Regions from separate parts of the Homo sapiens genome. Here region 2 is reported to be linked to region 1. Evidence: microRNA targets listed by miRTarBase, many of them from high-throughput screens and not tested one by one. Region 1 holds a microRNA gene; the other region holds the end of a gene's coding sequence.

The links. Region 1 holds the annotated microRNA hsa-miR-3135b (GGCUGGAGCGAGUGCAGUGGUG, at 1,937-1,958, opposite strand). A microRNA usually pairs through its seed, bases 2 to 8, with sites in the 3' UTR of a target mRNA and lowers its output. Matches are read on the target gene's strand: a 7mer-m8 pairs with bases 2 to 8, a 7mer-A1 pairs with bases 2 to 7 and ends in A, and an 8mer does both.
Region 2: the mRNA of UBE2G2 is a reported target of hsa-miR-3135b. Seed matches in the 3' UTR shown: 7mer-m8 at 3,298-3,304 and 7mer-m8 at 2,261-2,267.

What each region holds. Positions count from the first base shown.
Region 1 is chr6:32,748,016-32,753,188 of GRCh38, forward strand. MIR3135B (microRNA 3135b) reads right to left here and starts at 1,964; the gene lies at 1,897-1,964.
Region 2 is chr21:44,767,166-44,772,165 of GRCh38, forward strand. UBE2G2 (ubiquitin conjugating enzyme E2 G2) reads right to left here. Exons shown (of 6, transcript NM_003343.6): 6 at 1,415-4,324. The coding sequence ends at 4,212. Among named protein-coding and RNA genes, the nearest start is that of UBE2G2, 32 kb to the right of the region's middle. RefSeq lists enhancers at 1-18, 1,860-2,360 and a silencer at 1,269-1,563.

The DNA.
Region 1 (5,173 bases):
GTGGTCTCCTAATAGAAAATCTCTCAGAGGAAATGGGTCCACAGGGACCTGAGAGCTCTAAACAGCTATGAAATCTGCCAGGATATTTCTGTCCATGCTATCTGCATCAGTGAGTTTAAAATGTAATAGGAGAAAAAAAAGAGACAAAACATTAACATAATAATTGATACAGCATAGTTTTGTACAAAGAAACCTAAATCCAAATACTTGACTCAGTATTTTGAAGCTAGTATTTTAAACTTTACTGGGTAAAGTATCTGATTGACATTTCTGAACCTTATTTTTCTCATCCACAATGTGGGAGTGATAATATTTTCCTTGCAGAGTTATTGACAGAATTTGAATAATCTTGGTATATAGACAGTGCCTTACACGTAGTATATAAATATATAAGAAAACACTGCAGTTATGTTTATAATGGATTTATTAAAAAGAATGGATCATATTATATGAAAAGTACATTTGTTTTCCTTAGCCCTTTAGTGATTTAGGAGATTCAAGCGTAGACGTAAAAGTGAGTTTCTTTTCATATGTTAACTGGAGGATTTTTTTCTTTCTTGAGAGGCTGAGATTGGGTTGCTAAGAGAACTCTTAGGACAAGAAGTTGTAATATTTGACTTCGGTTTTTAACTCTCTAAGGGGTATATTCCCTCCTTATGTCCCATAAATTTTAAGTCAAGGTGAATTATATGCAACAGCAGTTTATCCATATTTACTTTGGGGAGGAGGTGGGGAGACTCCGGGAGAAAATAATTATAAATGCAGACTGGGAATTAGTAAGTGCAGGGAATCTGAACCAGTGGTGATCATGAAAACGTCCATCACAGAACACAGAGGATTTTTAGGGCAATGAAACTACTCTATTTGATACCACAATGGTGAATAAATATCATTATGCGCTTGCCCAAATCCATAGAATGTACAACACCAAGAATGAACCTTAATATAAACTATGGACTTTGGGTGATAATGATGTGTCAGTGTAAGTTCATAAGTTGTAGCAAATGTACCTCTGTCATGAAGGATGTTACTAGTGGGGGAGGCTATGCATGTGTGGGAACAGAGAGCATATGGGATACATCTATCTGTACTCTACAATTTTTCTGGGAACCTAAAACTTCTCTAAAATAAACTCTATTAAAAAAAAAGAAAAGAAAAGGTCAACAATAATGATCCCAAATATATAAAATTAAAACTGTAGTATAAAAATGGTCACATGAAAATGCATGAATGTGCTAAGAACTTTTCTGCAATAGGATTTAAAATAAATTTTATATAAATTTCAATGATTCATGAGCCAAGAACCCAGCATTCTGGAGGTGTGTGCATTTGTGTGTGTGTGTGTGTGTGTGTGTGTGTGTGTGTGTGTGTAAGGCTTACATTGAATGGCATTATAACCAGAGTCATACAGAAATACACAAATGCTCCCCTATTTAGAATCCTTCCCCAAGAAATACTGAGGAAAGCAAATATAATGGTAGTTGGATTTTACTGAAAGAATGTATTCAAAAAGTATTTATATAATGTTAAAATAGCATAGCTAAAATTAGTTTTATAAAATAGAGCAAATATATCTTTTTATCAGCTAAAAGTTCAAAGTGAAATCATCATTATTATATTATTATATTATTATTATAAACAGTTATAAATCAGGCTGCATGATTTTAAATTAAATGATTCTTAAAAATTGTTATCTGAATTATTTCAGATTACATACATAAAGTATGACTTCATTAATAGGTAATATCACATTGTTTAAATTTTACAAAATTTCCAGTCACAATGGTTCATGCCTGTAATCTCAGCACAAGGTGAGGGTCCCTTAAAGCCCAGGAGATGGAGACCAGTCTGTAGTCCCAGCTAGTAGGGAGGCTGAGGCAGGAGGATTGCTGCTTGAGCCCAGGAGTTCGAGGCTGCAGTGAGCTAGGACTGACTGCACCACTGCACTCGCTCCAGCCTGGGCAACACAGCGAGACCCCGTCTCTAAAAATAAATAAATAAATGAATAAATAAATAAAAATTACAAAACGTAAAAATCACGTAAAATATTTCAGGTTTGTACTTACCACATACAAACTAGAGATATGAAGAATTAAACATTACAAATAAAGCACTTCACACACAGTCTGGCCCATAGTAAGCAGTTTATAGAAGTTAACAAATTTGTGTTATTGTTATTTTCTGGAGTCCAAGACAAAATCCCATGATGAATGACACCACAAGGATGTAAGCAACAAAATTCAGAATATGAGAAGTTCTACTAGATTAAATAAAAAGATTTCTCCAGCAAACAATTTGCAAAAAAAGTTAAAAATAGAGAAAAGAAAAGCTATACACTTGAAAAAGACTGAAGAAATATAGTAACCAAACGCTGAGCTTTGTCTAGATTCATATTCAAACAAAACATCTGTTAAAAAATTTATATGAGGCAATCAGAAAAATTGACACTGAGTGTATTAAGGAATTATTTATCTCGTTTTAAATGTGTTAGTGGCATTGCTGTTATGTTTCTAAAAAGCCATTATATTTTAGATTTTCATAATAAAAATGTATAAATGAAATATGATACCTAAAAATATCTTCAAAATAATCCAGTATGTGCCTGTATGATAACTGGGTGGGTTTACAAAATTGCTCATGAATTGATTATTGTTAAAGCAAGGCTGTTGATACATGGAATTCTTCTCTGTACTATTGCACACAGTTGAAATTTTCTGTAATACAAAGGTTTTTTTTTTAAATGTATTCAGGAAAGTCCCATAAACATAGGCAGACAAGCATTCTGTTTGAAGTTATGTTAGTTTTTCAGTTTTTCTCATTTTTATCACATTTAGGAAACCCTGTCCAAGGCCTGCCCAAGACTGTAAGAACCTCTCAGGAATGCAACTATAAAGAATGTGTATGCAGGAACTAATAATAACAAAGGAAAGCAAAGTAATGCTTGCTTTATTATTGGCTGGACTAAGCCCCCAGACTTGTTTATATATTCACTAATTCATCAAAAATGCAAAAATGGTCATTGAGTACCAGTGCTACAATAAGTACTCATAGTTTGTTGAATGTTATTAAAATAATGTGAAAACAATTACATTCATTATCTTCATAGAACTTACACTCCAGTGGGAGGAAAATACATATATTACATAATTCCACAAACATAGTTACAAGGTCTGAAACATTTATAAAGAAAAAGAATGAGGTAAAATGAGAGAGTGTTGCACAGGGACCAGGTATGGTTTGGGGCAGTTTAGAAGTGGCTTGAAGAAATGTATCTTGAGATGAAATAAGGTGGTATACAGTAGGTAAAGGACAAGGTTGAAGAGGCCAGAGCAAATGTTTGAGAAACTCTTACAATATGAAAGAGAAGATGAGAATAAAATAACATGAAAATTATCACAGATTTAATAGAGAAAGTTCATGTAACAGCAAACAAGTTTAAAGTCATTCTAATTAGAATTCTTGATCTGTAAAAGTAATAATAGAATGCTAAAAACAATTGGAAAATTTAATAGAAAGATTGGAAAATTAAATCAAGAAAATCTCACAGTAATTTAAAAGGCAAAAAAAAAATGTAATATATGGTAGAAAAAATAAGATGGAGAACAGACCAAGGAAGTCAAACATCAAGTGACAAAGCTAGAGAGACCAACAGGGAAGATGAAGGGAGAAAATGATCAGAACAAATAATAAGGGAAAATGTTCCAGATATAAAGGATTTAATTCTTCCATGGAATAGTCTTGTCAGGTATTTAGCAAAATTAACAGACTCACTTCTAAATATCTCATTTTCAAAATTTCAGAACTTCAGGTGTTATAGAAAAGTCATAAAATATTCCAGTGGCGGAAACCAAAATGAAACAAACTGACAACAAAAAAAATACTTCTATTATTAAGATAATGAGAAAGTCCTTGAAGTTCTAAAGGAAAATTATTTTTTATTAATAAATGTAGATCTTTTCAAAGTCACAATCAGGCATGGAGAAAGAATAAAAATACCTGTGAATGTGAAAGAACATAAAATTTACCTACCACGCAGAGTTTTACTAGAAATTGACTAAGGATATGACCAATTGAGATTGTTAATCAGGATATAGGAAGGTAAGGAATCCAGGAAACTGGGTCTAACCCAGGATCTCACTGAAAACGGATCCTACTACAGCAGTTTCTTGGCAAGCAAAGAATACCTGACTACATAAGTGATATTTAGAAAGTGATAAACTTTTTTTTTTCAAATTTAGAATTAATCTGTGAGCAAAGCCCAAGGAATCTTATTGCTACAGCAGAATGTCAATATTTTCAGCTTTGACAATATTGGGGGGAAAAAAAAGATGTAGATACTTCATTATGGCAACTGGAAGTGTAAAGGAGAGGGGAAAGGGAGGGTGAAAATGCCAATAACTTCATCTTCCAAGAAGGAGGGGAAGAGGCATTGCCCATACTTACAGAAGTCACAAAGATCAATATATTTAAATTACAATCACAACTGGAAAAAGTATGTAAAATGACTCATGAATTAGAGCAAGGTTTTAGAAATTGGACTATTATTTCAGTTACAAAAAAAATGGACTGTTATTCTTCGGCCTAAGCTATTCAGAAGCTGCAAGAGCCCCTCAGAGTCGGCCCAAATTAGAGCAGGTTGTATACTCCTATACTGACCAATCATTATAGGCGAGTTCCTCCTGGGAAGTGGATCAAAATCCGATGAGGCAGCTTTCATCACCTAAGGCAATTCCGGGGCGTGACTGAAAGCTGAGGGCAGTCAGCCAGCAACATTCCCAGCAATGACAGAATAAATCGTTCAGTCTCAAAGGGAGGAGTTTAGGTACAGTGGAACAGCACTGACGGCAGAAACACTGTTCTAGTTCCTGGGAGTACATATACATTCATGTGGAAGAAAACAAACAGATAAAATTCAGCATCTATTTAAAAATTAAAAATAAAACTACCACATGATCCAGCAGTTCCACTTCTGGGTACATATGCAAAGAAAATGAAATCTGTATCAAAGAGATATCTGCACTCCCGTGTTTATTGCAGCACTATTCACAATGGCCAAGAGATGGAATCAACCTAACTATCCATCAGCAGATGAATGGATAAAAAAAATGTGGTGCATATACACAATGGAATACTATTCAGCCGTATAAAAGAAGGAAATCTTGTCATTTATAGC
Region 2 (5,000 bases), not on the chromosome of region 1:
CCCCACCCCAAGCGGCCCCGCGGTCCCCTCCAGGGCAGGGTTTCCAGAATCCACCTGTCCTTAGTGTGTTCACTGCCCCTTGGCAGCCCCGAATTTTTGTACCTGTTTCCTGTCCCCTCCTTGTGTCCAGGTAGCATCCCCAGGGCCCTCGCCTCCAGCACAAATTCCAGCCTGCAGAAACCTTGTCAGCTCAGGGGGCCACGGTGCAAGGCACGCCCAGGGGAGGGAAGCTGGGGCTGCCCTGGGGTGCCTTTCTGTGCAGCTGGAGCAGTTCCATATCCTATGAAGAAACTGGTACAGAACAGCACTCCTCTGAAAAATTAGCAACCTCATCTACACAGAGACTGGACTGGAGAAGCCCCAGCAGGTGCAGCAATCCCAGAAGTGAGAGTCAGAGCTGTGGACGCCACCCTTGCTGTGGCCCAAGCAGTGAACTGGGGCCGCTAACCCCCAGGAAGGGTGAAAAGCCCCAACACCCAGAAGATGAGACCCTAGAGCTTCCCTGGCCACCCCAGCAGCCCTCCCCATCCCAGGAAGCAGACAGTTGCATGGGAAAAGCAAGGACGGCACTCAGCCAGACAGGCAAACAACTGTGGCAAACCAGTGCCAGCAGACAAAACCCAGAAACACAGAGCAAATGAAATGGTAAAAATCACTGTCAACCCCCAAGGTTATCTGCGCAGAAAGGGTCCATACAGTGGGGACGGCCGTCCTGAGGCCCGCTGGCCGGGCTGGCCCTTGGCTGGCGTCTGGGAACTGGGATTTCCGAGGGGCTCCCTGAACCCCGCCTCACTGGGCCTGTGCTATTTGTACAAGGTGGTTTAGGCAGAACACTCACATCCCTGCTGAGAGTCTGGAATTGTAGCGCAGCCCAGGCAGAAGCTGCTCACGTGACCAGCCCCCGGGTACATCACCAGGCAGGGCATCCCCAACATCGCACACGCAGAGTCCCAGCTGCTTGCAGGGGAGTGAGGCGCATCCTGCGTGACCCCCACCCCAGGAGAGGCCTCCAAAGCTGAGCATGGTGCCCCTGGACTCGGCCCCAGGAACCTTTCCCTTGGCCGATTTTGCTCAGTGTCCTCCCTGTGGGAAATCACAGCCGTGACTACCGTGACCTGCATGGCCTCTGTCCTCCTGGAGAATCGCCGCCCTGGGTGGTCTTGGGGACCCCAACTCAGTATCACATTAGAGTTCTTACCCATTAAAAAGAATGCTTAGTGAGAACACTGGGCAAAGGGCAGAACAGACATGCCTGGGGGCCTGTGCTGAGGCACTCGCCCAGTGCACCCCACCAGGAGCAGCCTGGGAACCAGCCCAGGGAACGAGGCGCCAGCACCTGGGGAAGCCTGGGGACCCTGCCTCACAGGATTACAAAGGAAAGCTGACCGCCAACTACCAAAACAGAAACAGCAAATCACTGACACAGGAATCTGCCTCTTTATTGACATGCTAAGTAACAAGACGCAGAGGCAGGTCTCATCGCAACCAACCGTGACCACAGAGGACCACAGAGGAGTGATGACAGGGAGCTGTGCTTCTAAGCAACTGCAGGAGGGAAGCGCAGTCGGAACAGCCTGCTGGCTTCTAGTGGTCAAATGTGCCACTCACACAATGGCATCTGCTGAAAAAGCTGCAAAATGTCATTTATAGGTTAGTGAACACATCCGTCTCACAGACCCCAACTAACCTGAGAATTCCAGAGGAAGACCACAGAATGACAGAAGGGAGATCAGAAACAGAAGAAAACATGCCAGAGCTAACCCAAGTCTGCAGAAAAGCCCCCACCGTGAGGAATCCCAGCTGGGATGATCTGGTGTGCTCCCTGGGGGCAGTGGCCACAGGCTCCTCTGACAATACGACAAAGGGACACACACTGCAGGGCAGGGAAAACACAGAACTTTATTTCAACAGTCATTAGGTTCCACCACACAACAGGGACACCATGGGATTGTTTTTTCATTTAATAAATACAAATGAATAAAAATACTTTATTTTGTCAAGAGACTGCCTCTCCTCCCTCTCCCGATCTCACAGAAGCCTCCAGGCAATTGTGTGCCCCTCCAGGGCCTGCACCCACAGACCCCGTCTACTTGCACAAATGACTCTTCTTTACAGAGAGGGCTCCATCTCATTTGCCTGCAAATACAACATAGGTATAATACCGCTCCTTTCCCCCATCTCCTTCCAAATACGAGTTCTTGCCCTGCGTTCCATTTTTTTTTTTTTTTTTTTTGAGACAGAGTCTCACTCTGTTGCCCAGGCTGGAGTGCAGTGGCGTGATCTCAGCTCACTGCAAGCTCCGCCTCCTGGGTTCACGCCATTCTCCTGCCTCAGTCTTCAGAGTAGCTGGGACTACAGGCGCCCGCCACCACGCCCGGCTAATTTTTTGTATTTTTAGTGGAGACAGGGTTTCACTGTTAGCCAGGATGGTCGCGATCTCCTGACCTCATGATCCGCCCGCCTCAGTCTCCCAAAGTGCTGGGATTGCAGGCGTGAGCCACAGCACCCAGCCTCCAAATTTTAAATGAGCCCCTTGTGAGAAGGAAAAGAATCTGCTGTCCACAGAAGCCAGGCGTGGAGCTACTTCAACCAGAAACTGTCACCCATGACACTCTGTGTGGGTTCAGTCACACAGACCACGATCCATTATGGAAGGGAGGGAGAAAAGGATCACATCAAATCTACTGTATGCCTCATAGACCATCCCTTATTTCAAAAATAGAAATTCCTATTTAAATGCCGCCCGTGTGCGACAGGCCTGATATTTGCTTCTGCATGTGGCAGATCTGTTATTGCTTACACTGTGGCCTCCTGGCCTGTGCTGCTCAGCTGGCCCTGTTAGAGAACATGGGAACCACATCAAAATCCTAAGTCACAAAACAAGGGCTCTGTCCCCAGCCTGGGCCCAGGGGCCCACATGCCCACCTCCACAGCCCAGTCAAGTGTGGGGATAAGGCACTCCTCTGTGCTCTGAGCTAAGATATGGTAGAGTCCCTTCTGAATTTTGAGTTGCAAAGAATGATTTTGTGCTAATAAATTCCCAGTGCATCCAAAATGTACAAAAACCCTAGAATTTCCAGTTTTTAGATTGAAAAAAAAAAATTTTTTCTGTAGATCCAGAAGAAACTTTCATTGAAACTTTAAAGACCTCACCTGCACCTGCTCTAGTAATGCACTAGTTACTAATATACAAACGTAAATCTTTGATGAGTATGGTCGGGAAAAAACTGTCTGTCCTTGTGATCAGCAATAAATTTCTTTTTTCTTTTTGAGACTGAGTCTCGCTCTGTTGCCCAGGCTGGAGTGCAGTGGCGGGACTTCAGCTCACTGCTACCTCTGCCTCCCGGGTTCAAGCGATTCTCCTGCCTCAGCCTCCTGAGTAGCTGAGACTACAGGCGTGCACCACCACGCCCAGCTAATTTTTTGTAATTTTAGCAGACATGGGGTTTCACTGTATTAGCCAGGATGGTCTCAATTTCCTGACCTTGTGATCTACCTGCCTTGGCCTCCCAAAGAGCTGGGATTACAGGCACGAACCACCGCACCTGGCCAATCAGCAATAAATTTCTTTTCTATTTACCCCATTTCTTATTAATTCACACTTCAAAAAAGCATTTCCTGGAAGTATTTCTAAGTGTGATGGTTTGTAATATATAACAAATGAAAAGATGTAATTAGATTATAAGAAAAGCATCTGCCTGTAAAATATGAAGGAAGAAAGGAAGTAATGGACTCCTCATGGGGCCCACAGGGAACCAGGAAGGACCCAGAAAGGGTGCCGGGCCCTTCCCCTGTGCTGCAGCTACAGGGCCCCATTTCTTCAGAAGGAGCGTTCTGGGTATTCCATCGTCCCCTGGAAGTCTGGCAGGTACAACCCCCTCAACACTCCAGGGAGGGAGGGAATCCACAGGAAGCCATGAACTGCTGGTTTCAGCGGGGAGAGGTAGTGCTGACAGCTCTGATAATCTACCTGAAGCCCTTTGTGAGGAATACTGTAAAACTGCAGTAAGCTGTCAATATTCGACATTAAGTCATCATTTCAGAAGAGAAGCCTGTTTGAAGTAGGAAAGGTTTGAAAAAAAAAAAAGATGCCATGGTTCTTGCAAGTCTGCCTTGTTTGGTACCAGCACAGAGCATCACTGTCACTAAGTGTGCCGGGGGAGAATGCTGAGCTGCTTGGCGGTGTGTGCGCGCCTGTGCGAGGCCAGGTCTCACAGTCCCAGAGACTTCTGGACGATCTGCTTGGCAATCTTATAGAACTGCTCCCGGTCATCGCGCCACATTTTGGACGCATCCACGTTAGCTCCACTTTCGTCATTGGGCTCTGAAAGAAAAGGGAACACCCTCCATGTAAAAGGGAGTCTTATACGTAAGCAGCCTGGCAAGGTCTCCCATTTATTTAAAACACTGGCGGGGGCTTTCAAGAGCTGTGTCCCAGAAACAAAGAACCTGAGAACTGCATGGGGTCGGCCCCACCTCTAGAGTGCTGGCCACGCAGGTCTCAACGAAAGCCACTCTCATGACTCCTGCGTTCTGAGTGTCTGAAGACACCAGGACAAGTTGTCATCTGTCTTGCTGTGGAACATGCGACAACCACCTAAGCACAGGCCCACACGGCCTCCCACAGCAGCCTCCTGGGCCACTGCACTTCTGGCACCCGGACAAGCTACACGGGGACCACCTGCTGCTTATTTCACCTTTCTCAAGACACTCTGCAGTGTGGCTTCTCTCTCACAGAGCGCCCTCTCAGCAAAACTGCCCCTCACAGCTCCTACCAAGACAATCCCAAGCAAATGTGCAGCCTAAGGTAGACACCTGACCCCAGGATACCTGACCCACCCCCTAGCCAGCGGCACTGGCAGTCACTGCAGAACTGCAGTTAGGAGGCACGGAGGGAGTAGCCAGGGCCTGCCGGAAGGCAGAACGGAGAGAGACCACCAGAACTGGATGACATGTGCTGAGGCAGCAGCTGTGCAGTGCGGCGGTGGCGCTGCTCAGAA